3 separate regions of the Homo sapiens genome follow, and all the other regions are linked to region 2. Evidence: fine-mapped expression QTL. A gene starts in region 2. Each other region holds a variant in brackets. All regions are shown on one strand. Distances are from middle to middle. Region 1 overlaps TM7SF3 (transmembrane 7 superfamily member 3). Region 2 holds the start of MED21 (mediator complex subunit 21). Region 3 has its middle 17 kb from the start of C12orf71.

Region 1 (10,455 bases), 24 kb after region 2:
CACAGGATTGTCATCTTTAAATTCAGGGACTCTGTTCCAGAGATCATTGTTATTGCTGCTACCAGAGGGGAAGTTTCTCTGGGTTCCAGGAGCCTGTCTTCAGCATACCTTTTGAAATACCTCTTGCATTTTAGTTCTGAGCTCTACCATTCACTGGCTGGATGACCCTGGATGGGCTGCATCACTTTTTAAGCCACATTGTCTTTAGCAGTGAAATAGGAGCAATAACCATATTTACCTCAAGGAGTTTTTCTGAGGATTAAATTCCACATTCATTTATGAATATGATTTCTGCAAATTGATATGAGAGTACAAGTGTTGTAATGAAAAGTTTATCTCGTTGTAGGTCTTATTGAATTTTCTGTGGGGAAATTTAGATACTTCGAGCTCAATAGGCCCTTTCCAGAGGAAGCTATTTTGCATGATATTTCAAGCAATGTGACTTTTCTTATTTTCCAAATACACTCACAGTATCAGAATACAACTGTTTCCTTTTCTCCGGTAAGTGCAAAGAATTATTTTAGTAAAAATCATTTCTATATTTTGGGGGTCTGGTATTTAGTATGAGCATTAGAATTTGATATCTCTATCTCTTTTATGTTTATGATCTTATGTCTTAAATTTTAAAAAATCAAGATAGGATGTTTTCAAGTTAGTGACTGAGAGTATCTCAGGCCTTTCTTGAGTGTGGCAGTCTCTGACCTAAAAAGGGGTAATGGAGAGCTGAGCTGGGGAGAAGGGCACCCTGTGACAAATGTCACCACTATGCAGGCAAGTTTTCTTCGTGAATTCCCACCTTTTCATTTTCTTACTTTAGTGGGGCCTTAATAACTTTTACCTGAGAATATATGTTTAATGGGTTTTCATTGTTGTTTAGCTATAGTATTGAACTTTACCAAGAACCCTATAATATCAACTTTATTCTTTGGACTCTGTCACGCAAACAACAAAAAAATTATAGTGCTCAGTTCATCCAGCCCTGTGCTATGCCTCCAGCAGTATTAAGGACTCTATTATAGATGTCATCACTAAACCCCTTAACCTCAACCTCAGCCTTAGAAAGTTTTTAAAATTCTCTGGGTTAGTTTAAGCTATGAAGAGTCTGCCATTTATATAATCTTTTACAATCTATCTGCATTTAGTCTCTATGATGCCCTAGACCAATACATGCATTTCACCTTGTATGAAGTTATACTTCTTTTTATTTGTCCTAAGCCTATATTATAATATTCTGGAATTTGGTAAACAATTCTGTCTTAATCTAATTCATATGTAAATTTTTAAAATTTTTATTTTTTTTTTTAGAGATAAGATCTCACTCCATCACCCACGCCGGAATGTGGTCGTGTGATCATGGCTCAAATTCCTGGTCTTAAGTGATCCTGGAACTACAGGCACATGTCACCACACTTGGCTAATTTTTAACATTTTTTTTTTGTAGAGATGGGGTTTTGCTCTGTTGCCCAGGCTGGTCTTGAACTCCTGGCCTCAAGTGATCCGCCTGTCTGGGCATCCCAAAGTGCTGGGATTGCAGGCATGAGCCACTGCGCCCCAGCCCATATATAATATTAGAGGCATTGGTCACACTATCTTTCTTACTATTTTGTGTATTTTTATTCCTGCCTTCTTTCCCCTACCATAGAGGTTTGGAAATTGTGTGCATGTGGTTGTGCACGTGTGTGCGTGTGTGTTGTGGGGTATGTGTGTAGGGGGGTAGTTAATAGACTAGAAATGGAAGAATTCAGCTTAGGAAAAAAGGAAAGGAATAAATAGTATTAATTACAAGAGATACCGATGTCACACATACGTCGAATTTGCCCAAGTTCTTTGCAGCTAAAGCAGAAGGTAAAGCATGTTAAATTTCATAACTTCCTTAGAAAGGAAGGAGCATGCCAGTTCCTCAGGGGAGGCCAAGTTTTTTATGGCACTGAATTCAAAAGACAGCTTCCTATTCAGACTCTTACATAGGAGACTTAGTAAAATGGCACATAGATGAGTTCTTTCTTCTTCTCTTTTTTAACTAGATCTATTAAAACAATTTTTAATTGACAAACAGTGTGTTTCTTCCTAATGACATTACAGCAAGACAACATTTGAAGGAAAAGAGAGAGGATGGGTGAAATAAGGGTTTATATTTGTTGAACGCCTGCTATGTCCTAGGCCAGTGGTTCTTAAGCTCCTGGAGCCATAGACTGCTCAAGTCTATGGACTCAAATATAAATATAAAATTTCATGGGGCCCTTCAAAAACTCAGACTCTCAGGCCCCCAGTTAGGAACCCCTGTGTTTGGTTTCCATATGGTTAATTCTCATTAAAGCTCAACAAATTAGTAGTGATGCCTATTTCTACATCTGAGGAAGCAGAACTTGGATAAAGAGATGTCAGCATCACCAGTGATAAAACAGACCTAGCTGGCAGCATCTTGGGCCTTGATTTCTATGCAGAAAGGGTCTTAGTTGTCCTTAATTATCATTTTATTTCTTGGACTGCCTTTAGTTCCCACTGTTATATTACTTAGAAGATGATGGCCAGAACTGCACATGGCTCAGGAAGTGAGTGGTCTGTGTAAAGAGAAGTGCTTCTGTTTCCTGTGCCCTTCCTAATAAAGTGTGGCACTTTTGTTTTTTTTGAGTCGTGATGGCAATTGGCTCTTTGAAACTGTTGACTTGATCATTTATCAATTAATATTTGAGTCATTCTTTCTTATGCTTATCAAATTGAAACTACTCTGCTACCTTTTCCTTCCCATTTCCTTAGCTTTGATAGAACCTCTTGAGTCTGTTACCTTTTAGCTTAGCATTTTATTATTCAAAAAACTTTCCAAGCAGATGGGAGTGGGGGATGGTAGAGAGGAAGTGTGTGAGGAAGGATTAGGAAGGGGCACAAGGAAACTTGGGGTGATGCATACATTTGCTATTTTGATTGTGGTAATGGTTTCACAGGTGTCTGTATATCAACACTTAAAAGTATACTTTATGGGCCGGGCACGGTGGCTCACGCCTGTAATCCCAGCACTTTGGGAGGCTGATGCTGGCGGATCACGAGGTCAGGAGATCAAGACCATCCTGGCTAACATGGTGAAACCTCGTCTCTACTAAAAGTACAAAAAATTAGCCAGGTGTGGTGGCAGGCGCCTGTAGTCCCAGCTACTTGGGAGGCTGAGACAGGAGAATGGCGTGAACCCGGGAGGCGGAGCTTGTAGTAAGCTGAGATCGCGCCACTGCACTCTAGCCTGGGTGACAGAGCGAGACTCCATCTCAAAAAAAAAGAAAAATTATACTTTATGTACAGTTTATAGTTTGTCAGTTATAACACAATTTAAAAGGTACCTCGAAAACTGAACTCCTTGGGGCCAGGTCTCATGTTTTTGTCCTAGTGGTCTTAGAAACTAAGATAAAACATTATTTGACATAGTAAATCTTAATTCAAATTAATTGAAACACTTGGGAATTTCACTGTGCATCTGCTATTCCTGATCAAAGATTATTTTTACAGACAGAATGTTTGTGTCTTCACAAAATTCACAGTTGAAATACTCATCCTCAGTGTGTTATATTAGGAAGTGGAGTCTTTGGGAAGTGATTAGGTCATGGGCCCCCATTTAGAGCCCTCATGAATGGGATTAGTGGCCTTATAAAAGGGACCCCAGATATGTTTCTTGCCCTTTCTCTGTCATGTGAGGATACAACAAGAAGTTGGGAGTCTTCAGCCTATAAGACAGCTTTCATCAGAACCCGACTGTGTTGGCACCGCTATCATGAACCACCAGACTCTAGAATTGCGAAAATAAATTTCTGTTGTTTATAACCACCTTACCTGTGGTACTTTGTTATAGCAGCCTTAACTAAGACAATCGTATATTTTTCAAGAATGCTTTTTCCATGTATATGTGTGGGCATGTGAACATAGAGATGAAAAGAATTCCCTGGTTATTTAAGGAAGGTTTTTTTTTTCTATTTGTTTTGGGAAGATTTGGAATAGGACATGCACACTGGATCAGCTCAGTAATTTATGTTTTGGTCGACTTCCTATTCATGACAATGTTTCTTCTGGACTGCAGACTCTCCTTTCCAATTCCTCGGAAACAGGCACTGCCAGTGGACTGGTTTTCATCCTTAGACCAGAGCAGAGTACATGCACTTGGTACTTGGGGACTTCAGGCATACAGCCTGTCCAGAATATGGCTATCCTACTCTCCTACTCAGAAAGAGGTAACCCTTCTGTCTTCTCCTCCCTCTTACTCTTTGGAATATGGAATGTGTTCATGAAACTTTAAGGAAAATTATCCTATTGAGATTGTTTGTTGCAAGTATAATTTATATAATCGGATTTTTTTTTTTTGAGATGGAGTCTCGCACTGTCACCCAGGCTGGAGTGTAGTGGCGCGATCTCGGCTCACTGCAACCTCTGCCTCCCGGGTTCAAGCGATTCTCCTGCCTCAGCCTCCCAAGTAGCTGGGATTACAGGCGCCCGCCACCAGGCCCAGCTAATTTTTTGTATTTTTAGTAGAGATGGCGTTTCACCATGTTGGCCAGGCTGGTCTCGAACTCCTGACCTTGTGATTCGCCCGCCTCAGCCTCCCAAAGTGCTGGGATTGCAGGCATGAGCCACTGCGCCCAGCCTATAATCAGAAATATTTTATAGTAAGAGAATTAGCACGATGACTGAAAGCTCAGGTAGTGACTAGGAGAACATGTTTATTCATTCGAAAAACATTTAGGGAGCCCTTGGAGAAGCAGTAATAGTTAAGGCAAGACATAGTCCTTAACAGTTTAGTTGTTCTAAGCAGAAGCAGTAAGCTCGACGTCATGAAGAAAAATGATTTGGAGAATGGCACGTTGTGAGTGTGGCTGCAGCTGGAGTGTGGAGGGCCTTGCATACAATTTGAGGTTTGTACTTTATTTCGAGGTAGGTTCTAAGGAGGCATAGAGTTTTTAAGCAGAGGAATGGTGTAGTCCATTTCATCTCTTAGAAAGCTAACTCTAGAAG[T/C]AGTGTGGGGATGGATTGGAGAGGGCGCAGCAGAGTCAGGACTCAGCACAAAATGAGAAATGAGGATCTGAACAGAGGCCATGAGAGGCGGGATGGAGAAGAGGAGCAGGATTTGAGATATCCAGAAGGTGGAATTGATACAACACAATGACTGGTGGTTATGGAGTATAAGAGGGAAGCATAGGTTTCCTATTTGGGCAGCAGGGAAATAGTGATACAAAATAGGTGTAGGAACAGGGTTATGGTGGTGCTGGATGTTTTGGGAGGTGGGACGGAGTAGGTGATGACTTCAGTTTGGGACACAGTCTGAGATGCTTGTAGGACATTTGGATGGAAATGCAGAGTACATAATTTAAATAAGGGCCTGGAGTGGAGGGGTGAGATTAGATTCCCAACTAAATAGCTGTTAATAAAAGCTGTGGCAGTGAGTGAGATTATCCAGGCATGTACTTGGATATTTAGGGCAAAAAAATCATAGCAAATACTTTACTAGTGCCTACTATGTGTCAGGCACTGTTTCTGGTGGATAATAACTCCTGAGGAATAAGCACAACACTGTGGAGTAGTCAAGAAGGTAGGAAGAAAGCCTGGAGTTTCTGCCTTTAAAAGGGAGCAGGCCGGGCACGGTGGCTCACACCTGTAATCCCAGCACTTTGGGAGGCCGAAGCAGGTTGCAGGTATAATTTATATAATCGGGAGTTTGAGACTAGCCTGGCCAACATGGCGAAACTCTATCTCTACTAAAAATACAAAAATTAGTCAGGTGTGGTGGCAGGTGCCTACAATCCCAGGTACTCAGGAGGCTGCGGCAGGAGAATTGCTTGAACCCGGTGGGCAGAGGTTGCAGTGAGCTGAGATTGCGCCACTTCACTCCAGCTTGGGTGATAGAGCAAGACTCCGTCTCAAAAAAAAAAAAAAAAAAAAGGAAGTGGTAAGTTACAGTCTACGGAGAGGTCAAGAGAACTGACTGAAAGTGTCCGTATGCTAGAGCAAGTAGGAGTCAGCGGTGGCCCTTTATGAGAGTCACTTTAGTGGCACAACAGGGATGGAGGAGTGAAGGTGAGGTGAATAAATTTAGACTACTCTTAAAGCTTGGGGGTAAAGGGAAGGAGAGGGAGCGCTAGTTAGGAAAGGAGGGAGAATCCAGAAGATTACTGGAGTAGAAGATAGGAAATGTTAGCTATAACAAAAGGCTAATTACCTGATAAGAAACCATAGACTTAATTAAGGCTTGCGTCAAGGACAGTGTACAAAGAAAAATTATGAACAGAGGAGCTTCAGCTGGCATACATACCATTTGTGGTGTGGTAAAGATCCATAAGTGCAGAAAAAGGAGAGTATGAAAGAAGAGCATAGAATTTGGAGGAAGATTCCAACATGATATTGAAACATATATACACACTGTGTATCTGCATTCCAAACCTGGCCAGAAGTAGTCAACCAATAGCCGATCTTTTTAACTCTAGAGGAAAGGTTGGCAAACTACAGACCATGAGCCAGATCCAGCTTGCTGCCTGTTTTTGTACATAAAGTTTTACTGAAACACAGCTATGCCTCTTCCTGTACGTATTGCCTGTGGCTGCTTTCCTGCCACAAGGACTGGGGTGGGTAGTTACTGCAGAGACCATCAGACTGACAAAGCCTAAAATACTATTAGGCCTTTTACAGAAAATTTTGGCTCTGCCCTGCTCTAGGGCCCTGAACCTCAGTTAACTCTACCCTCTTTAACCTCAGTTCATGAAATAGTATACGACTAGAAGCTCTACGTTTATATTTAACTTCTATTTGGGAAGTTTTTGTAAGAGTAGATAGAGTTCTGTTTTTCTGAGTATGATTTGGATATGTAGGAATTGTTTGTTTAGTAACTTCCCTATTTCTTATCCAGATCCTGTCCCTGGAGGCTGTAATTTGGAGTTCGATTTAGATATTGATCCCAACATTTACTTGGAGTATAATTTCTTTGAAACGACTATCAAGTTTGCCCCAGCAAACCTAGGCTATGCGAGGTACGTCTGTCTCCCATGTCTGAGAAATGCTTTTAGAATATACATGACGACAGTTGTGTAGATTTGACCAGCTCTCTCAAGTCCCTAATTCTCTGTAGTAAAATTGAGTTAATTTTTGGGGGGAATTGATGTAATTTAAACTTCACTATTAATATTTGGACTGTCATTTACAGTTAATATTTTCCCACTTCATTCTTGTGAACTCTTTTTATTTGAAGAGCCAGATGTGAGTCTATTATGAGCTTGAAAATACATCCTGGTTTTTATAAAGCACTTTAAATATAGATAGCACTCAGTAGCCCTGAAACATCCTTTTATTTTTATAAAGATTCATTGTTTTAATTAAAGCTGTGCCTCAGTTTCTGCTTTAATAGTAATGATAGCTAACATTTGAGAACACTTGAATGCTTCCTGTGCATTGTCCGTGGTGCTGAGTGTTGTTATGTTCTTTGCCATTTAATCCTAACAATTTTATGAAGAAGGGCAATTGCTGTTATTTTACAGAAAGTTTCCCTAGGGGTTATGGAGGTTACCCTACTTGCTAACAAATGACAAATCTGCTATATTCTTCTTCTTTTTTTTTTTTTTAAATCAAAGATGAGGTCTTTCTATGTTGCCCTGGCTGGTCTTGAACTTCTTAGCTCAAGCAATCCTCCTGCTTCAGCCTCCCAAAGTGCTGGGATTACAGGCATAAGCCACTGCACCCAGCTTTTTTTTAAAAAAAATTTTTTTGCCTCCCCAGAGCTGTAGTATTTTACTCTAGGCCTGACTGATATCAGAATCCAGTTATGTAATCACCTTTGCCTGTTGGTGTTTGTCTTAGTTTGTGGTGCTGTAACAAAGTAGCACAGACTGGGTGGCTTATAAACTTCTTTCTCATGGTTCTAGAGGGTAGAAGTCCACGATCAGGATGCCAGCACAGTTGAGTTCTGGTGAAGGTTCTCGTCCAGGTTACAGACTGCTGGGTTGTCATTGTGTCCACACATGACAGAAAGAAGGCTAGAGGGCTCTCTGGGATCTCCTTTATGAGGGCAGTAATTCGATTCATTAGGGCTTCACCTTCATGACCTAATTACCTTCCAAAGGTCCCACCTCCTAATATCATCACACTGGGAGTGAGGGTCTCAGCATATTAATTTTGGGGAGACACAAACATTCAGTCCATAACAGTGCATTACTTTTCTTCAGAATACCAATTGTTGCCACTGCAAAAGGTGAACTGTTAAATTGTAATTATTGTTGCAAGTGTTTGAAATTAGGGCTCTTGGTTCCTTTTTATAGATGGGACTTGCACCACAAGAGACTGATGTTTCATTTTGTTGGTTGACTTTAGAGGCGTAGATCCCCCACCATGTGACGCTGGGACAGACCAGGACTCCAGGTGGAGGTTGCAGTATGATGTCTATCAGTATTTTCTGCCTGAGAATGACCTCACTGAGGAGATGTTGCTGAAGCATCTGCAGAGGATGGTCAGTGTGCCCCAGGTGAAGGCCAGTGCTCTCAAGGTAAATCTGAGTCCCATGATTTGTGTGGCTGGATTGTGACACCTTTGTCAGAGTTGAGAAGGGGAGAAGCTACCAGGATCTTATTTCTTTACTCTTTTCTCCTTTTTGGGGGACACTCACTTTATTCTCTTTTGTTATCATCTTGGGAGTCTTTGCTGGTGATATCTCAAAATGATGTTGGCCTTTGAGGAGATGCATGTAAATTATGTTACGTTTTAGTTGCAGCCACATCTGTGACTTGGTAATCTGAAATGTGAATGGAAGGAGGTGGTAATTTTCTGTGTACTCCCACGACTACTGGGTAAACATTTTTGGCAAGTATGAAGATTACATTGTTTTGAGAAAAAAATAATGAGAAACTGCTTAAGGATATACACATTGGCATTCATATTTGAACCCAAACTCAAAGTCTAACTTGGAGTAAAATTCTTCTCTGAGCTTTTGAATCCATGTAAACCCTTGCTCCCCAGGTGTGGACCATGGACCAGTGGCATTGGCATCACTGGGGAGTTTGTGAGAATTGTAATTCTTAAACTCCACCCTGGAACTACTGAATCAGAATTTGCATTTTATATCCCTCAGGTGATTCTGACTGGGTGCAGTGGCTCACGCCTGTAATCCCAGCACTTTGGGAGGCCGAGGCGGGTGGATCACCTGAGGTCAGGAGTTTGAGACCAGCCTGTCCAACATGGTGAAACCGTGTCTCTACTAAAAATACAAAAATTAGCCAGGCATGTTGGTAGATGCCTGTAATACCAGCTACTTGGGAGGCTGAGGCAGGAGAATTGTTTGAACCCAGGAGGTGGAGGTTGCAATGAGCCCAGATGGTGCTGTTGCACTCCAGCCCTCAGGTGATTTTTATGCATATTAAATTTTGAGACTCACTGCAATAGATCATTTTTGTGGAGGGCAGGATTTTATCTTTATGTCTTGAAAAGTGCCTAACAGCAATATAATATATGAGGTCATCCTTCAGTCTAATGGTTGATGGGTGGAGTTTTTCTAGACAGCGTCATTGTGCTTATTCACAAAATAAGAAGCTCTGTTAGTAAAGTTTATTAGTTGCTTTATTAGATATGACATTTTAATACTATTATTATTTTTATGAAGAATATAAGAACTTGTATAATAGGCTTTTTGTAGGTTACTTTTAAACTTTTAGTTAAAAGAATATTTTGTACCAGAATGTGGGGAAACCCTCAAAGACTAATGAGGGTATGTCAAAGAGATTCAGGAGCCTGTTTGAAGGGGCTTGCACTGCCAAATTTGGGGCAGTTCAAGAATCAAGAAAAAGACTGTGGTTGTCAGCCTTGAATAAATACAAATGAAACCTTCCTCAGTTGCCACCACTGGAGGAGACTCTTACAGCAAATTACTCTAAAAATTGATAAAGAAATTTAGCTTGCCTTTTTAAAGGAGGAACTAATTCTTCCCCAGTTGGTGAGAGAAAGCTCTTTGCAGAAGAGTGCTGGCTAATATATGTAGAAGAAATAATAGAATTAGATGATCACCATTTTGTGACCCTCAATGAAATAATTCCAGCAAGGATCAGCAGGTGAAAGGTTTTTGGGGAACAGGATATTTCTAGGGTGTCTAAGTAGCATCCTTAGATTAATTCTCATTGTAAAAGGAGAACCACTTTAACATGGAGTGACCTTATAGTCTCCACCTATTCCAGGTGGGCAAAGCTAGTTTCACTGAAAATGGATCAGCCTGTATTACGTGCTTATGTAGTGCAGTCTGACATTATCACCATCACCTGTGGTATATTCTAGCAAAAAATGTCTAACCTGAATTTAGTCCATTGGATTCCCTATTTACAGGAAATATGGGGGATAAAAGAATAAGTTAGACACAAAATTGTGGAATACTTTATGAGAATACTGACTTCACATCTTCTACAGTCATTGGGTAGCTGGGAGAGAAAGGTGGGACAGACTGCTCTGGATTACTGA
Region 2 (10,455 bases):
TCATAGATGGAATTAGTACCCTTAAAATATGGCTTGAGGTTGAAGAGGGAGCTCTTGCTCTTTTGCCCTTCTGCCTTCAGCCATGTGAGGAAACAGGAAGAAGGCCCTCAACATGGCCCTAAACATGGCACCATGTTTAATAAAAATTCATTACTCATGCACAGTGAGTAATAAATGCCTTGATCTTGGACTTCCCAGACTCCAGAACTGTGAGAAAATAAATTTCTGTTCTTTATAAATTACTGTCTCAGGTATGTTGTTATAGCAGCACAAATGGACACAGACAAAAGGTACTAAATCTACCTCCTTTAATTCAAAATTCTCTATTACTGGTAAAATTCTCAAAGGAATAGAGGCTTACCTGTAAAGCAGCTGTAGATTCTTCACTGGGTAAGGAATCTATCAAAACATCAATGTCTTTTGCTGTTCGTGCAATCAGTGCTGCAAAAAGCTGGGCATACTCTAGAGAAAGATACTGCTAGATTAGGATATTAGAAAACCTCAAGTTTTCAGAAACAAATTTTAAGTTAATGAAACCAGAAACTTCATATAGCTTTTTCTGCCCTAAGATTCTAATGATTCGGCCAGGCGTGGTGGCTCACGCCTGTAATCCCAGCACTTTGGGAGGCCAAGGCAGGCGGATCACGAGGTCAGGAGTTTGAGACCAGCCTGACCAACATGGTGAAACCCCATCTCTACTAAAAATACAAAAATTAGCCAGACGTGGTGGCATGAGCCTGTAATCCCAGCTACTCAGGAGGCTGAGGCAGGAGAATTCCTTGAACCCGGGAGGCGAAAGTTGCAGTGAGCCAAGATTGCATCACTGCACTCCAGCCTAGGTGACAGAGCGAGACTCCGTCTCAAAAAAAAAAAGAAGATTCTAATGATTAAAATATACACCAATCCTGTTACACATTTAGCTCAAATTGGGAATTAAGCATAATGTATGTAATTTCATTTATTATGACAATATAGTGGTCACCTGAATAAAGAAATTTATAAATGGGATGCCTTCCTTGTTAAGGTCCCTCACTCAGCTAAATTAATACAAATTCTCCTCTAAAGGAGTAACAATCTATTATCTGACATGAACCAGAATTATGAGATGTTAGGTGAATTGACTGTAAATTTTTTACAACAAACAAAACTTGTAATATTCTCAAACAACAATAATTTTAGAAATAAAATAAGCTGAATTTCTCAAGAAATCTAATTTTAAAGGATTACAAAAAATGTGAGAGTCAAACTAAGAGAAGCTAAGAAAACCTGTTTACCTTCTGTAGGGTTAGCTGGCTGGTCTTTGTTAATTGCTGTCTGAATATTATTGAAAGAGGCAGGAGGACCACATTGCTGCAATACTCCAATGGCATTACAAAACTGATCTGCAAGCTTAGGCCAAAGAAAACATATCAAGGTTAGAAAGGACTTATCAGTTTTAAGGACTTTATTGGTAATGGCAACAACAATAAGTTTCTGTAATGATAATCTCTGAGCAAGGGAATAAAACAGAAAGGAGTGATTGTTGATAAAATAAGCCAGTTATTATTAATGTTGATTAAACGTTTTAATTCTGCAAAGAAACTAAGTTTGGTATCAATCTAGGTAAAGTTAAATTTGATATAAATCTAGTTGAAACAGTTGAAATACAAAATAATCTTTCTTTTCTTGTGATAGTAAAATGATAAGAGAATATTGGCCAATACTTATTGTAAGCCACAAGTAAAGACTTTTTGGGGATAGTGATGGAAAAGAGCAAATTTGACTTGTAAATATCTATGGCACCATGTTTAATAAAAATTTATTTCTCATGCACAAAGTATATGATTCCTTTTCTGAGACTGGAGTAGTTACAAGTGTAAAGAAATAGTGAGGAAGAGGCTGCTCAGAAAAGCACCTTAAGTAAGCAGAAATGTATTTGTTCAAGACTCAATTTGTAAACTCTTGTACTCTAAAAGTATTCCTTAAGTACTTTTAAAGATTGGGAATAGCAATTCCTTACCATCTCCAAATTAAATACACCTATCTTCCCTACCAATTTCTCTCACCTAGTCTTGACCTCTCAAACCTCCTATTTCTAATAAGTATTTCCACTGGGTTTCTCTGCCATTGTTTCAATGACAGAACTCAAAGGCAACTGTTTCCTCTTTTTAATATTTAATTTGTATTGAAAGTCTCCTAGTCAACCAATCTAACTTCAGATTCTTACTTTCCTTTGATCTTCATATTCTGCTAATACTACAAATCTTTCTCTTTTCCTTCTATCACTGTTGCTTAGTTCAACCAATTATCTCACACCAGAATTATTACAATAGTCTTCTTGTTGTTTTCCAGTTCACCAGGTTATTTATTTTAACCTGATCAAAACATTTAAGCTTACTCCACCACTGTCTTCAAGATAAATCTCCAACTCAGGCTGTTTTGAAGCTTTCAATAATCTAAGTCAACTCTACTGACTCGTTTTCCACTACTCCTTCATATTTATCTAACTAGTCATAAAGTCACTTATGACTAAATGGCTTTGCCCAGGTTTTGCTAATTGTAATGGAGCAATAAGTGCTCAGATGCTATACAAACCTAGATCCTGATCCTAGCTCTATTAATCCAAGCAGCATTTTTCATTTTTAAATTGGATACATTCTCCTATTATAGCATTGTTGTAATAGAGGAAACACACACAAAAAAATATTCAACACAGTGTCTATCTTTTCCATCCTTCAAAAGCTTTTAAGATCCATTTAGTCAACAAAAATTTATGGAAAATAACTAAAGTACTGCATATAAACACTACAGAGACATAGTGAATGCGACATAGCTTCTGCACTCACGGTTTTCAGAGGGTAGAACAAATGTTAAAAGTTATACAAATAATTCTGATTAGGATAAATGCTAAGAAGATTCCCCCTATTTTGGTTCACATCACTCCATATTCCAATTTACATCAGAACCTGAAGCTGAAAATACTCAATTCATTATAACTCCCTAACCACATACTGTTTTTCCATCACTTAAATGTCTCCTGAGTATTTGACATTTTTTAACCTCCTTTAGGAGTATCTCTTTGTAAACATGATGGTGCTTACACACAGTAGGCACTCATACTAGTTATCCTAAAGGCTTTTCTCCAAAATCCAATTATCATTATGCCTAACCTGGAGTTAAGGCCATATTCACTCTGTCCTTATTATCCTTCTAGTTACAAGACATGTATGAATATGCAAAATTTTCCCTAAAATAAGATTTCTATCCAGCAGCATCATTACAATTTGATTTCGTAAAACCTCAAAGGAGTAGTTCCCTGAGGAAGGCTGGCTGGCAGCCCAGGCAAGTCCCTGCAGGGTAGAATTTATCTTGGTGAATTCAACACTTAGAGGCTGGTCCTCTCAGCTTAAAAACTAGTGTTATTCACCCAGGGTAGATCAGTTTTATCACAAGTAGATTCACACTCTTCAAGTGTACAAATTCTGATGTATTAAGAAAAATGCCAAGTTATTAGCTTACAGTGAGGAAAAAAAAAACTGGCAAGGAAACCAGGTACTTAGGTTTTCCTATCAGCATGTTTTCTCTCTAGCCCCTTATCTAGGACATTAAATCACAATCAGACAATGAGAAACATAACTATCAATGGAAAACTATTTAGCAGAAAACAATCTAACTCGTAATGGTAATAAGTACACCCATTGCCGCATGGGAATACCCACTGACGTCTTGGTCAACGGGATGCACATATTATGTCAGTCCCCTATGGTTATAATAAAGCTGAAAAATTCTTATTGCCTAGTGACATCGTAGCAGTACTAACGCTGTAGCGCAATGCGTTCCTTAGTGCTTGTGGTGATGCTGCTGTAAATCAACCTACCACACTGCCAGTGTATGAAAGCATAGCACATACAATTATGTGCAGTCCATGACACTTGATAATGATACTAAATGACTTTGTTACTGGTTTATGTATTACTGTTTTATCGTTATTTTACATTGTACTTCTACTTATTAAAACAAAAAAAAAAGTTATCGCCAAAACCATGCATTTCTCAGAACATGACCCCTTCATTAGGGGCCCATGACTGCGCATCCTCTGGCTTTGCTTCTACTTTCCACTCAGGCATAGTGTGGAGGAAAAATAACCAGAAGGAACAAAGCTGGGGAGCTACTTACTAGACTTGGCCTTTAATAGAGAGTAGAATTTGGGGGAGACATTAAAAAGGACTTGTAGGCCGGGCACGGTGGCTCACACCTGTAATCCCAGCACTATGGGAGGCCGAGGCGGGAGGATCGCTTGAGGCCGGGAGTTTGAGACCAGCCTGGACAACATGGTGAAACCCCGTCTCTACTAAAAATACAAACATTAGCCGGGCGTGGTGGAGGGCGCCTGTAATCCCAGCTACTTTGGCTCAGACAGGAGAATCGCTTGAACCCGGGAGGCGGAGGATGCAGTGAGCAGAGATCGCGCCACTGCACTCCAGCCTGGGCGAAAGGCACTGTCTCCAAAGTAAAAAAAAAAAAAAAAAGAAAAGAAAAAAGACTCAAATAAGCGGAAAGACATACGAGGATTAGAAGATTTCCTATCATAAAGATGTCCCCAAACTGATGTATTCTGAGGGATGGCCAAGAGGCAAGAGATGGAAGGATACTCTGGGCCCAAAGGAACGAGCTAAGATGAAAGAAAATCTCTCACCTCACCTCAGCATCGCTCCCGCACCAACCTGAAAGCGCTGGTGAAGGAATACTCTCGGCTGACATTTCATTACAAAAACCCAGTCATCCAGAGCATGAGATCTCCCTTGGTGGATTAAAATTGATGAGGAAAGAAAAAAGCTCCTGCTTCTCCTCCCAACCCCCAAAAGAAAGAGAACCCGTAAGCACCACTGACAAGAAAATAAAACTGTCCTCAGGGAACACGACAGGACCGCGCAGCCCACAAGTCCTGGCGGCCTCACCCGGACAAGAACGATCTTCCCGGTCTCCTCAAGCGAAAGAGTCTGCTCCCTCCCGCACCTTCAAGCACCGCCCGGCAGCCGGCCTCAAACCTCCGAGTTCGCGGTGGCGCCTCCCGAGAGAGCGCTTTATGCCGAAGCCCTGTCTCTCAGTCCGCTCCCCACTTTCAAGTTTTGCCTCTTGGGCCCCTTTCCTCCCTTGCTTTACCTCAAGAAAGAGAAAGACAGAGGCTAATCGAATGAAATTCCTCACCGAATTCACAGCGTCCTGAAGCTGCGTGAGCCGATCCGCCATGTTCCTACCGCAGCAAACAGACGCCAAAACAGCTGCTCTTCCGCGACTGGGCAGCTCTGGCACGCGTCATGGCCAATCACAGGGCTGCGTCCTTGGAACGGGTGGGGTCGGAGAGAACTCCCCGCCCCGTCAGGAGTGGGTGGTACTCCCGAGGCGGCCTTTCTAGAGCGGGCTACACCTGAGGAGAGGCTGGATCTTTTGAGTAACTGGGGGAATGGTCTGGGGTCCAATCGCTTTGAAATACAGTCCAAGAGCCGAAATACTCCCCTTGGGGTTGTTAGGTGTTAAAGGCTTCAGAGATTGTTGGATTCTGCGGGGATTTTTTTTTTTTAAGTAATTTCTCGTACCCTCTCGTGTTTATTTATTGACCAAATTGAAGAGTAAATATATTTATTTTTATTTATTTATTTATTTATTTATTTATTTATTTGAGACGGAGTCTCGTTCTGTCGCCCAGGCTGGAGTGCAGTGGTGCGATCTCGGCTCACTGCCAGCTCCGCCTCCCGGGTTCACGCCATTCTCCTGCCTCAGCCTCCGGAGTAGCTGGGACTACAGGCGTCCGCACCACGCCCGGCATTTTTTTTTTTTTTTTGTACTTTTAGTAGAGACGGGGTTTCACCATGTTAGCCAGGATGGTCTCGATCTCCCGACCTCGTGCTCCGCCCGCCTCGGCCTCTCAAAGTGCTGGGATTACAGGCGTGAGCCACCGTGCTCGGCCAAGAAAAATTAGCTGCACAATTTAGATTTAGAGTTGGGACTTATTGAGAGTTTAAGTGTGAAAAGTGATAATCGAAACTTGGTATTTAAGGAAATTTAGCCTGAGGATAGTCTGGTAAGAAATGAGTTTGGAATCGGCAAATAACAGGTTTGTAGACTTCAAAAAACTCTCATATCCTCTTTCTCAGGCTGATTATCCGTGATTACCTTCCTGTGGCTGCGGGGAAGGTGGAAGACACAGTCCCTGGGGAACTCAGCTTGTTGGATTTATCCCAACACTTACTGTGAAGCACCACTTCTGCTTCACACCAATGCCCCACCCTCAGCCCCAAACAGTCTACAGACTTACTGGAGCCTCATTAAGAACGTGGATGAGGCATGTTCCCCATAATGGGACTAATGAGAAATCACTCTGTAATTTGTTTTCACTGTAACTTGGGGGGATTCTACAACCTTCTCCTCCCACCCTCACTTGAGAGTGTACCTTACGGAATGGCTGCCACATGCCAGGAAGTATATCCAGTGCTCAATTTGCAAAGATGAATAAGCCAAGGACTCACTAAGGAAGGTTTTGCAGTTGTCCAAGATTAAGATGAGCTGGGCCTAGAATAGGGTGTTGACCCTGATAAGCGGGGAAAGAAAGACTAAAATATATTTTTGAGAAAAAAAATTAATATGGATTGGTGACTGATTGGATATAGTTTAGTCCACTCCATAAGAATACTAAGTTTTGCAGCCTGATTGAAGGGAACTTGGGCAGTTGAAGTAGAGAAGCCACTTCAAGACATTCATATTGTGACACAGTTTTTGTCCTGCCATTATCTTCCTAATAGGTCTTCTGTGCCTCCACAGAGACCTCAGGTTGATGTCCAACTATCTCTGCCTGGTTTTCAAGATTTACTATAATCTGGCTCCAGCAAACAGACCCAGCCTCACCTCCTGATAATTTTCTGAGTGAAATAATCTGTTTCAGCCAAGGTCCCTGACCCCTTGGTTTTCCTGGTTCTTCAGCCTCTTTCGGCCACGGATCTTTTTAAGAATCAGATAAAAGCTGTGGACCCTTTCCCCAGACCAGACTCTCAACTTAGCCTACATTTGAAAAGGGGTTTAGGAAGCTCTTGAAGCTGTAGACTTCAAGAATAACCCACCTGCCAAATATAGTCTGTGCATCTAGCTCAGGATTTCTCAATGGCTGCACTCTTGACTTTTCAGGCTAGATTATTCTTTGCTGTGGGATGCTGACCTGTGCACTGTAGGATGTTTAGAGCATCCCTGTCCCTTACCCCTGAGATGCCGGTAGCATCCCCCCAATCCATTTATGCCAACATAAAGTATCTCCAGATAGTCCCAAATGTTGCTGGGGGGCAAAATTGCCCCCAATTGAGAACCACTGGTCTAGCTCTTTCCTCATTCTTTACCTTTCCCAAAGCAATTTCTTTCCTGCTATTTAATCCTTACCCTACCTTTTTAAGCTGTACACTTCTCATATAAATTTTATGAATTGCTAGAGTCCATAGGGACCTCTCCTTTCTTCCTTTCATGATTTGGACACTTTCTCATATGCTTTTCCATTTGCTTCTGTTGCATCGCCAACTGGATTATATGGTTTTAGGAGCAGGAACCCAGTATTACAGATCTCATATTTTAAACACACAATTTTGGTGAGTACTTTCTTTGAAACTTTATATTATTAAAAGTTTCAAAGATATAGAAAAGTAGACAGTATAGTGAACCCTCGCATACCCTTTACAGCTTCAGCAGTGAGCCACTCAGTCAATCTTGTAAATGCTTTGGTTTTTATGACTGTAGCAACTATTTTTTAAGAAAAACACCTTTAGCAATTTTTAAATAACTTTAATACTCACAGTTGCAATTTATTAAATATCTAAACTGTTCTTAGTGCCGGGATGAATAACTATAAATAAGCATTTTTCTATACCACACTCTTTGAAATTCCCTAAACATGTTCTGCTGTTTTACAAAAATGCACACCATATAAAAACACCTATAATTATTTCTTCCTTGTATGAAATGCCTACACTTCCATCCACATCTCCACTTTGCTCCCTTGGTGATTGTCCACACAGTACTCAAACCTTATTTTATTATTTATTTATTTATTTGAGACAGAATCTCACTCTGTTACCCAGGCTGGAATGCAGTGGCACGATCTCAGCTCACTGCAACCTCTGCCCCCAGGGTTCTAGTGATTCTCCTACCTCAGCCTCCAGAGTAGCTGGGATTACAGGTGCCCGCCACCACACCTGGGTAAGTTTTTTGTATTTGTGTAGAGACGGGGTTTTGCTATGTTGGCCAGGCTGGTCTTGAACTCCTGACCTCAGGTGATCCACCCGCCTTGGCCTCCCAAAGTGCTAGAATTACAGGCGTCAGCCACTGTGCCCGGCCTATTATTATTTTTTTTACTTGCCACTATACTAGTGAACAAAATCTTATTTTAAACATCTCTTTATAAAAGCCTTTCCTGAATTCTGAAAGTTAAATGCTCCCAATCTTTAACACAATTGTTCCTTACACTTCTGTTATTGCACTTAGCATACTGTGCTGTAATTATTTGTACATCACGCTAATTCACCCACCAGTCCATGGGCTACTTGCAGGCAGAAAACATATTCTGTTTCCATATTTCCAGTACCTAGCACCTAACTTTTAGCCTGGCACATATTTATCAACCAAATGAATGAGTTTCCTAGCATAATAATTTCCATATAATAGCTACTAAACAAGCATTTACTGAATTTAACTTAATGAACAAAGAATGTAAATTACTACCCACAAAAGAGCATAAGAATTAAAAAATACAGGATGAAGGTGAGATTAGAGTGGGAAAGAATGAATGGGCAAATTTCACAGAGGTTCAATCCTGCCTTTTCCCTGGATCCCCACTCCCAGCTCCATTTAAGGTATTTTAGGTTTTATTTAAAAAGCTAGGGTAAGTTTTTTCCCTTCCTCCTTCTCTCCCTCCTGCCCTTCCTTCCTCTTCTAAATTTTAACAGACTTTTGTTTTATTAGATACAGGGTCTTGCTCTGTCACCCAGGCTGGAGTACAGTGGCATAATCATGGCTCGCTGCAAACTCAAACTCCTAGGCTCGAACAATTCTCCAGCCTCAGCCACCTGTGTATCTAGGACTACAGATGTGCCCCACCATGCCCAGCTAATTTTTTTTTCTGGTTGTGTGTGTGTGTGTGTGTATGTGTGTGTGTAAGAATGGGGATCTCACTATGTTGCCTGGGCTGATCTTGAACTCCTGGTCTCCAGAGATCCTCCTGCCTTGGTCTGCTAAAGTACTGGGATTACAGGTATGAGCCACTGCGCCTGGCCTAAACAGACTTTAAGCCTCTAATGATGCATATCTTGGATTTGGGAATCTTTCAGTTTCTGCATTTCCTTTCAATACATAGGAAAAATGAACTAATCTGCAAAGCTGCTAAGCTTGTTTGCTTCTCAGCTCTCCAATGGAACTCTGACATGAGCATGGAACCCCAGCCAATCATCCTCCCAAGCTGTCACAATACTGTACTTAGAAGCCAAGGTAATGAGGCCCTGTTCTGATTGCTGACACATTTGTCATCAACTGTCATGCATGCACAGGCAACTGCAGGCCTGGGGAACTGCGATGCAAAGGTATGGAGGAGAGAGAATAGGCTCAGTTCAGGAAATTGAAATTAATTCAATGTGGCCAGCATGTAGAGGTCTGATTTTAGTTGCAGCAAGAACCTAGGGAGGTGAGCAGGAGTTGCATCACAAAAAGCATTTATGTGTCATACTCAGGAAGGTGGACTTATATCTTGAATGCTTTTATAAGAAAACCTTTAAAATTATATGTATCTTTTACAAAATCATAATTTCTTATTTAAAAATGATACACTTCAATGTAGAACTTTTACACAGAAATGTGCAAAGGAAATCATTCTTAATTTAACCACCTAAAGATAACTATTTTAAACATTTTGGCATATATTTTTCAACCTTTTTTTCTATGTACATAACCAGGAATGCATACTACAAAGAAAACAAGGCAGGCACAGTGGTGTGAGCCTGTAGTAGTCCCAGTTAGTCTGGAGGCTGAGGTGGCAGGATTGCTTGAGTCTGGTGACAGACCAGGAGCACCGTCATCTCGGACAAACACCGCCACTTTAAGTTCCAGCTCCCTTTCTAGCCTCATGCATTTCAAGGAAATCACTTCTCTTCTAACTATAAGCAGCCAGAAAGAGCAGACAGTAAAACACAGATAAGACAGCTCAGGCACAAAGGGAGGTGGGGGGAAATTCTCTTGGGTAACTGCCAAACTTCACCCTCATACAATGGGCCCCAGTAAAACAGTGGGCCTTAGTAAGTACATTCCTTTCCCTTCAGGTGCACTAAGATAGGGAAGCTAAAAGCAGACTCGGGGGTATGCCTGCAGCTGCAAAAAGATGTATGGGAACAGACACACAACTCTCCCTCCCAGATAAGCACAACAGACACAGAAGCAGTCCAAGCCTCTGAT
Region 3 (10,455 bases), 77 kb before region 2:
GGGATATGTATACCTATAGGAAGACAGGAGTGAGCAACAGCTACTCATAGTTCTGAAGAAGAAAAGAATAACAAATTCCTATACACAAGCACCTTCTAAAGGAATGTTTTATAAATCGTGGGTCACAACTGCTAAAATTGGAACATACTGAAATAGAATTAATAGATTGAAATCAGCATTTCTTTGTATTAAATAGACAACAAAAGAGTAGTTCATCAGAAGTAAAGGTTAAGCATTATCGTGTGAAAATTCTGATTTGATTATTCAGACACACACATACACACACACGTACCTGCAACAAATATTGATTGAGGGCCTCCTATGTGCCAGGTATTAGAGGCAGAACAGTGAAAAAGACCAAGAAAAGCGAAGCTCTGCCTTTAGGTGGCTGACATTCCAGTGGTTTCAGAGTATGTGTGTGTGTGTGTCTGCACAGGCATGTACACACTCATGTGTTTTACAACCTAAGAATGCATACTTTATACTGGGATAAAAACGTTTGAAAACCACTGCTCTGAAGTGGTGTTGCTTAGAATGTGGTCTGTGGACTGGAGCTGGTGCACGAACTGTTGCTGGTCTACTATAAGTACAGAAATTGAGAATAACCACTTTAACAACTGCATAGCAACTTGACCTTGCTGTGATATCCAATTATGTGATAGTTCTGCTGGCAACTCAATTTTCTTTTTAAATTGAATTTTAGAAAACAGATTAATTCATGATGGAAAACAAAATGAGGCACATTGGCCAGGTGTCTTGGGAGTAGGTTACATCACACTCTGATTGGAAACCGCAGCCATGGACCACAGCTGTAAAAAGGTGCAACACAGGGAGCAAGAAAACCCCAACAAATGGGGAGTATGGTCCAGGTTTGTTCTTTCCACACATATAAAATGATGAAGACAATTAAACGGCAAGTGGAAAACTGTTAGCACCGACAATAAGGATGGGCTGCTAAGTTCAGAAGAGGTGACACAAAAACCATTTCTGGTTGCATAAAATTTACATCAGTTGCAGTCACATAGTTGGACTGCTTATTTGCCTAATTATGATGCATCATCTGACCTGCTTTAATTACACCAATAAAAGCTATATAATTTGTGTTAAAGTTTCAGTTTGTCACATGGTCAAAACTCACTGTATTAAAAAGCTGGAAGAAACTTGCTAGCATATAAAATTGATTGGGAAGACTGGTAAAAACTGTGGGCTAGGAAACAGTTTTGTGGAGGAATAAGTTTTCATAAATAATCTTATAAACTCAACAGTTTGTCTTGTAGGTAATTTCTGTTGGTTTCTATTCCAACTGGGTGTCAGTTACACTCTTGGCCATACAGTAAGAGGAATGCCAACACTGCTTGTTCCTTTATAGCACACGTGCTCCTGGCCAGAATCACCAGTTTTCGGCTGTTGGAGAAGAGAAATGAAAACCAGAGCCCTGAAACTGTACAGCTGGAAAGTTCAAAATATATTCTTAACATTGTTATTTCCTAATAAAATATTAAGAGACATATGGAAAATTTGTATACTGAGCCAAATACTAAGGGGTAATGTAATGCTTTTCAAATTATTCATATTTCAGTTCTGAGTGAATAGCACTAATTGCTGGCTGAAGGGAGGAGTAATGAGGGGGAAAGTAAGGCCAAAAATTATTCCCCAACCCAGGAGTTGGCAAACTATGACCTATGGTCAAATCTAGCCCACTGCCTGTTTTTATAAAGTTTCTTTGGAACACAGTCACATTCATTCGTTTACATATCATCTATGGTGGCTTTCATGCCACAACAGCAAAGTTGAGTAGTTGTAACTCACGAAGCCTAAAATATTTACTATCTGGCTCTTTGCAGAAAATGTTTCCAGCCCCTTCCCTAACCTACCTTATCCTACAGCCTCCTGAAAGTGCACAGACTCTTCTCTCATTCACCCACTGATTACACAATATTTATTGAGTACCTATTGTATATCAGGCACTATTCTAAGTGGTGAAGCTGGCAACTCAATTTTCTTTTTAAATTGAATTTAAAAAGTAATGAAGAAAAAGCAAAGAAAGAAAATAGAAAAGGAAAAAAAGTAAAAAGTTGTTGCTCTGATGGCACATACATTCTAATGGCAAGAAACCACAAAAAATAGTTTAAATACATAGCAGATGAGAGGGTGATTGATAAGTGCTATGGGAAAAATAATGAAGCAAGCAAGAGGAATAACATTAACATTAGCTTACTATGTACCGGGCACTGTTTTTTAGTGCTTTTCATATATCAATTCAATTAATCTTTACAATAACCCTAATGACACGATACTTATCCCCACTTTATTAGTGATCAAACTGAGGCACCAAGTCACACAGCTAGAAAAATGATGTGAAGTCAGACAGTCTGGCAGCAGAGCATGTCCGCTTAATTATATACTGTGCCAGCTCTTCGTGCAGAAAGGGAATGGCAGGGACTTAGAAGTTTTGATCTGATAATCAGGGAGGGCCCCATTGGTAAAGTGACATTGATTAAAACCTTGAAGAAGGTGAGGGGAGAAAGTCACAGGAATATCTGGGAAGAGATTCCAGGGAGAAACAACAGTAAGTGCAAAGGCCCCGAGGAGGGGGAGCTTCATGTAGTTGATGTTTGAGGTCAGTGGGCTGGAAGGTGGTGAGCCGGGGGGTTAGTAGGGAATGTGGTCCCAGAGGCACAGAAGGTGTGGTGGGAGTGGTGCGGTAGTGGGATCTGGGGCCTCACAAGCCATGGCAGCCAGGCTTTGACTTCAATTGAGCATGGAGATGGAAGGCCACTGGAGGGTTCTGAGCCAAGGAATGACATGATCTGATTTCTGTTTTATGAAGAATCATTCCTGGCCGGGTGCAGTGGCTCACGCCTGTAATCCCAGCACTTTGGGAGGCCGAGGCAAGCGGATCACGAGGTCGGGAGATGGAAACCATCCTGGCTAACACAGTGAAATCCCATCTCTACTAAAAATACAAAAAAAATTAGCCGGCGTGGTGGCAGGCGCCTGTAGTCCCAGCTACTCGGGAGGCTGAGGCAGGAGAATGGTGTGAACCCGGGAGGCAGAGCTTGCAGTGGGCCGAGATCGCGCCACTGCACTCCAGCCTGGGCGACAGAGCGAGACTCCATCTCAAAAAAAAGAAAAAAAAAAAAGAAGAAGAATCATTTCTAAGAACACACTGCAGGTGTGGCAAAGATAAAAACAAGAACAGTCAAAAAATGACTACAACAATTCAGATGAGAGGTTCTGTTGGTGGCTCGGGTCAGGGTGTGAGCAGTAGAGATGGTGATTGGACACTAGCTATGTACGTATGTGTGAATACACATATAGTAAATATGTATATATACATACATAAAATGCATATTGCTATATATATATTCTGAATATAAAATGTATATTACCATACATATTAGGATGCATTACACATATGAATTAAGTTATAATTTAGAGAGTAAAATGCACAGCTCTTTGCTGCACAGTTTGATGCATTCTGACAAATGAACATACCCCTAACAAGATAGCAACGTTTCTATTGCCTTGTGTATATTTTTGTTATAAACGCTAACAGAACTTGATAGAGCATTTGGGAGAAAAGATGAACTCAAGACTATGGCCTAAGCCATAGGAGGATGGAGTGGCCATTTACTGAGGCAAGTAACTGCCCACTCTCAACTTCTGAGTATGACAGCATTTCCTTCATCCACCAAAGGAAGGAAACAGGAGGAACTATAAAAGTATCATCTAGGTGAGTCATTACCCTGCCATCCTTTACACTGAAATTTGATGAAATACAGCCAGCCCTCCATATCCATAGGTGCCCCATCAGTGGATTCAAACAACCATGAATAGAAAATATTTGAAAAAAAATTGCGTCTGTGACTAAACAGGTACAGACTTTTTCTTGTCATTATTCCCTAAACAATACGACAAAGATTTACATAGCATTTATATTGTATTAGGTGTTATAAGTAATCTAGTGAGGATATAAAGTATACAGGAGGAGATTCCAAGGTTTTAGGCAAATGCAATGCCATTTTATATCAGGGAATTGAGCATCTCTGGATTTTGGTATCTGTGGGAGGTCCTGGAACCAACCCCCCATGAATACCCAGTGACAACTGTGCCTGGATCTTATATATAAAAACTGAATGTCATGGCAGAATACTCAAGGAAGATTACCACATCATCAAGTACTCCTATAGCACTTGTTGTCTCTCCCCACACCCATTCTCTCTCAGCCTCTGTTACCAAGTACCATATGGAACCACGGGTTATCTCTAATAGATGTTATATTTGGCTAAGGAAAAAGTATGTCTCTGGCAAGCAGTCTTGCCTAACCAGGTCCTTGGAGTGTTGCCTGTACTAAATCAAGCTTTTTAAGGACTAAGGACCCATTCTTAAAATTTCTATACCAGATCTATGGCAATGAAAAGGGTGAAACTCAGTAAAATATCTTGAAAAGATTTATTCTGAGCCAAATATGAGTGACAAATAGCCCATGACACAGCCCTCAGGAGATCCTGAGAACATGTGCCCAAGGTGGTCAGGCTACAACTTGCTTTTATAAATTTTAGGGAAACATAAGGCATCAATCAATACATATAAGATCTACATTGGTTCAGTCCAGAAAGGGAGCACAACTAGGGTGGTTAGTTCCAGATCATAGGTAGATTCAGTGAATTTCTGATTGGTAATGGGTTAAAAAAGTTGTTATTATCTAAAGACTTAGAATCAATAAAAAGGAATGTCTGGGTTAAGATGAGAGGTTGTGGAGACCAAGGTTTTATCATGCAGATGAAGCCTCCAGGTAGGAAGCTTCAGAGAATAGACTGTCAATGTTTCTTATCAGACTTTAAAAGATTATTCTATCAGTAATTCCAAAAAGGAGGAGGGAATAATGAGTAATGTTGGGCTCCCCCTTCCCATCATGGCCTAAACTAGTTTTTCGGGTTAACTTTGGAATGCCCTTGGCCGAGAGGAGGGGTCCATTCAGGTGGTTGGAATTTTATTTTTGGTTTACACTTACCATGGTGATCATGAAATAAATAATAACTATTTGTATCCATCAAAACAAAACTATTCCTTTATCACCACCAAACATGCTTTGCAGTACTGCAGAGGAAAGAATAGAATATTAATGGACTTGTTAGACTCTGACTCTTTCATGTCTTAGAGTATCAACTTAGATTTTGTTTTCATTTCAATAAAAGTTCTGACAACCCATAACTTTAAGAAGAGAGGGAATGAGGGAGGCAGAGAAGCAGAAGAGAGGAAATGTGTTGAACTGTCTTGACAGGAACTTGAAAACTTGCTTTTACCACAGCTACATGTTGAGTGACATGGGCAGGGCTACCAAAAGACCAATATAGTCAGGATTTTCCACATTTTACTGTCTCATGACTAGTGCTCCAAAGTGACATGAATAAATTCATACATTTACTCATATACATAATTATATATATATATGTATAGTCAGCCCTCCATATCCACAGATTTCATATCCATGAATTTAACCAACCACAAATTTAAAATATTCAAAGAAAAACAAATACAAATTTTAAAATACAGTATAGCAACTATTTACATAGCATGTGCATTGTGGTAGGTATTCTAAGTAATCTAGAGATGACTTAATGTATATAGTAGGATGTATGTAGGTTATATGCCAATACTACATCATTTTATATAAGGAACTTGAGCCTCTATTGATTTTGGGATCCTCAGGAGAGCCTAGAAAAAATCTTCCATGGATACCAAGGGACAACTGTACTTTATTCACAGAGTATTTCTCATTTACCTACCAAAGAGTATTTCTCATTTGCCTACTCTTTATTCAAAGAGTATTTCTCATTTACCTACCTACCTACCTACTTTACTCAAGGAGTATATCTCATTTACCTACCATTTACCCACTTACCATGTACCAGAAACTGATCTAGGAACTGAGGAGCTTCCGTTTGATTGACCATCTCCAATTCTGTATTTGCTTCCAATTAAGTCCATCTCATGGACCTGGTGAAGGGATCCCACCTGCCAGAGACATACCTTTTCCCTAGCTAAGTACAGCATCTGCCTTATTTTTAAGTGGCACCTCGAAACTTGAGTATTCTAAGTGATCAGGGTATACATTCTACTTAATGGGGTGTTTATTTGAGCCTAAAAACAAGGCTGGGGAACAATATACTTTTCAAAGTTTTGCTATTTATGCCATCTGTATTGGATGTCTTTGAATTATCTTCATCTCAGGATGCTTCAATTCCTGCCCTCTATTAAAGAGTAATAGAGTATTAAAATTTATTTTTCCTTATGAAAAATAAGGAAGGCCCAAATGTGTAAGCAAAAAGTTAAAGAATTCTTGGGCTAGAAGGTTTTTTATTCTTTCCTTTTTAAAGTCTCATTCTGTCACACAGGCTGGATGGAGTGC[G/A]GTGGCCTAATCATGGCTCACTGTAGCCTCAACCTCCCGGGCTTAAGTGATCTTCCTGCCTCAGCTTCCCAAGTAGCTGGAATCACAGGTATGTACCACTACACTCGGCTAATATTTTTATTTTGGGTAGAGACAAGGTCTCCCTATGTTGCCCAGGCTGCTCTTGAACTTGTGGGCTCAAGTGATCCTCCCATCTCAGCCTCCCAAAGTGCTGCGATTACAGGCATGAGCCACCATGCATGGCCAAGGATGTCTTAATATAGTGATGAGAGGGGAAACTAACAGCTGCTAGGGACAAATATCTACTAAAACCATTTTACCAGGAGATAGGAAGAGAGATTAGTCCTAGAGTAGCCACCCTGACTATTCTGGACCTGGGGTGTGGAGTCCAAGGAGTAGTGCTTTATGGATGTGTGTGGGGAAGGCAAGGTCATTGTCTTCCCAAAGGAAGGAACTGGGAGCTATTTGATTGTGATCTACCCCAAGAAAGAGGAGGTAAAACTAAACACAAGAATAGTCCCTAGTGCTGGAGAGCTAGCTCACAGGACTGACGTCAAGGGCCAAAGAAATATTGCTGGGCCTGACACTTCAGCTCTGTGAATGAAATTTTTAAAACATCCTTACATCTAAGCTCTGATAGCATATCTACCCTGGAGAGAGTACTTTTGTCAATTCAGATATTGGAATTTATGTGTAATACCCAGGGTTTCTTATCTTCAGAGAAGTCAAATGCCAGAACCATCAGGTCACCAGATGGAAGATGGAAGGTCTGGGCTCCTCTCTTGGCTACCCAGCTCCTTGGGAGTTTCTGTTTTCCTCTAGGATTTTCTCCAACAGAAAGCCAGGCATGGCAATCAGGGAGAGTCTAACTGCAGTTTATGAAGAGGTTTTGGTCTTTGGCACTGAAATTATTCAGACCTAAAAGAGCCTCTCAAGCCACCTAATTTCTTCTAGAGATATGGGGTACCAAGCATTCCTCTGCTCAGATACAATCAATAGCTCATGCTATTCCACCCTGCTACAGGCTTAGAGAGGTATGGATGATGATGATGATGATGATGATGATGATTATGTGTATTATCTAACCCACCCTAAATTCTGTTTTCTGAAGGGATAAGCCGTTTTATTAACAGGTTACTGATATTTTGGAATATACTTGAGGAGAGACAAAATTTGACTCATTTAATAAAAAGGGAGACAATCTTCCATTCCACCTGATCTCTTAGGATAGGGGGAACAAAATATGGGTTGTATTTCAGGGCCCAGAAGCTAAGAGGGTACATACCAGTCACATTAGCACGTGACATGCTTCGGGAACAGGGAGTAGGGTGAGTTTTGAAGTACAGGTGGAGCTGGGCGCCATGGCTTACACCTGTAATCCCAGCACTTTTGGAGGCAGAGGCAGGAGGATCGCTTAAGCCCAGGAGTTCAAGACCAGCCAGGCAACATAGTGAGACCTTATCTCTATTAAAACAAACAAAAATTAGCTGGGTGTGGTGACACACATCTGTAGTCCCAGCTACTCAGGAGGCTGAGGTTGGAGGATCACTTGAGTCTGGGAGGTCGAGGCTGCAGTGAGCTGTGATTGCACCATTGCACTTCAGCCTGGGTGACAGAGTGAGACCCCGTCTCAAAACAAACAAACAAACAAACAAACAGACAAACAAAAAGCAATAAAGTACAGATGGAGCATACAAGTATGCCTGATGTCAGTGGGCTGCAGAGAGAGAGGCTTGGCAGATGCCTTGACCTCCCAGAAACTGGGAAAGGCCCAGAGTAGAAAAGGAAGATAGTATAAAAGGTGCTTCAAGAACCTGCACCTCTGATGGCATCCCTGGACAACATCAGAATGACCTGCTAGAAAAGCCAGCTGCAATTTCTTGGTATAAACATTCAATCCAAAGCACTGGAGAGCTGTGAATGTCAAAACTGCACAACTAAACGAGGCTAATGTGGAAAATGAGGGATATGCAAGAATGGCGTAACTAAAGCAAGATGTCAAGTGAAAACACACTACAGATCAACTAACTACTTTTAAAATCCTCAGAACTGGAATGTTAGACATGTTACAGGTCATGGACTTGAGGGGGAAAGAAGTGGTCCCCTTGTTCAAGGAGCTGCTGTCATATTTGCTTTCATTTACCTAATACTTTTTGGCCTAATGACTCATGAAACATGAGAGAGAGAGAGAGAGCAAGATAGAGTCAGAGAGTCAGAGAGCGAGAGAGAGCAAGCACAATGTTGACTGCAGAACTAATACCATGAGGTCTATTGGGTCTGGAAAAAAGGAATAAAATTCAACTACTTTATGGAAATAGGTTCAGTTTATATACAATTCCAAAATAAGCATAGCTAAAAAAACACAAAATAAATACAGCTTGATTTCTGAGGCTAATTTGTGTTGAGGTTCAACTATGGATGGTGTGATGGGTTTAATTGTGTCCTTCCAAAATTTATATGTTGAAATCCTAAGCCCCAGAACCTCAGAATGTGACCTTATTTGGATATAGGGTTTTTATACAAGCACTATATAGGCAACAATCTGCTGTCCACAATATATTCTTTTCAGTGACAACATTCAGCCAACTGCCTTTCATGCCCCAGTAATGAAATTCAATTAGATACAGCATATTTGGCAATTCCAGTATCATAACAAACATTTACAGACTGATTACTTGCTCCCAGATTCAAATTCTGTTCCTACTGAGAGATATGGCAATCACCTCCAGAGAGTGTCCATTAGAGTTTGAAATTACAAAGCAATTGTGCATGTGTGGTTGTTTTTCATACTTTCCTATATTCCCCGCCTCACCATTAGTAAAATTGAGGTACTTCCATAAACATAAAAAACAGAAAACTAACTGAACTCATATTCAACACAGAGTTAAAAACAAGAAACAAAACTGTCTCTAAGTCAATGACAAAAGTATAAGCAAAATCATAGCAATATTTATTCAGTGTTTGTTCAGGGAGAGGTTCATGCTAGGATCCTGGTAGAGACACACAGATATATGATATATACATCAAAGCAATCTAATGATTGATGAATAGTTTTATACGGCCTTTAAAAGTGATCAGTTTTAATTTGTATAGGATCATTCATACTCAGCAAGAATTAAGTCTCCTCCCATGTTTTCTGCTGCCAGCACTCAAATACTTCAAGCCATTTCCACAAGAGCAAACATGTCAGATGAAAAAACATTGTGCCTCTCCAACGAGGCCTTCCTCCACACAGTAAAACATCATGGTCTGGGCACTTTAAGTGCTCAGTGCCAAACTTAGATGCCAGCAGCTAGAGACACTCTAGGTTGTAAATCACACCTGGTCTTCAACTCTGAAAAATAGCTACAGAACTAGCATCATAGACAGAACCATGCTGGCTTGGAAAGGTAAATATACAATGTCATCCTAGCCAAATTTGCTTCCAAACTTGTTTTAATTTGGAAGCAAACTGACTGAGATCTCCAGAGGAGGTCACCATTCTGGCTGTGCAGGTCATGTCCTTCACAGAGTGTCTCACCCTGGGTGCACAGACGCTGAAATCCAATCCATGCAGCTTGGGGGCTGCATTCACCTGGAGGGGCACCATTTTCTAATTCGCCCAGGCTCTCCAAGGACAAGTAGTGGTTCTTTCCCAAGACCTTGTTTTCAAAAAGCAATAGACTGGGGCCATTTGTCAGTTTTAATCTTAATTAAAATGTCATCTGCAAGTGTCACATTCACCCTCTTCTCTATGGATACCCCTGGGATATTCATCTAGGATTATCTCCGTGAAGAGCAGTGGCTTTAAACACCTTCAGTTCAGGAAGTGAAACAGTCAGTGGGACCGGAGTGTAGAGAACAAAAGGGGAAATGGCTGCAAATGAGCCTGAAAATGTGGGTGAGGCCATGTCATGCAGGGCCCATGGGACCATTTTGAGAATTTAAAGATTATCTTAAAAACAGTCAGATGCCATTGACAGGTCTTAAGTACCTAAATATGATTTGTGTTTCTAAAAAAAAAAGTCTCTCTGCCTCCTATACAATAATAACCAGAAGGG

The links. PIP is the estimated chance that this variant, and not a neighbour inherited with it, causes the effect.
Region 1: its variant is fine-mapped to the expression of MED21 in caudate (GTEx, PIP above 0.99).
Region 3: its variant is fine-mapped to the expression of MED21 in pancreas (GTEx, PIP above 0.99).

Annotation. Positions count from the first base shown.
Region 1 is chr12:26,993,282-27,003,736 of GRCh38, reverse strand. It overlaps TM7SF3 (transmembrane 7 superfamily member 3), which reads left to right. Exons shown (of 12, transcript NM_016551.3): 2 at 347-501; 3 at 4,061-4,211; 4 at 6,875-6,995; 5 at 8,329-8,500. Among named protein-coding and RNA genes, the nearest start is that of TM7SF3, 16 kb to the left of the region's middle. The variant T/C (reference allele first, on the strand shown) is at 4,990.
Region 2 is chr12:27,017,354-27,027,808 of GRCh38, reverse strand. It overlaps MED21 (mediator complex subunit 21), which reads right to left and starts at 5,251. Exons shown (of 4, transcript NM_004264.5): 1 at 5,188-5,251; 2 at 1,275-1,389; 3 at 362-462. The coding sequence starts at 5,229. RefSeq lists an enhancer at 4,930-5,219.
Region 3 is chr12:27,094,746-27,105,200 of GRCh38, reverse strand. It overlaps the pseudogene LOC124902904. Among named protein-coding and RNA genes, the nearest start is that of C12orf71, 17 kb to the right of the region's middle. RefSeq lists an enhancer at 1,017-1,186. The variant G/A (reference allele first, on the strand shown) is at 6,416.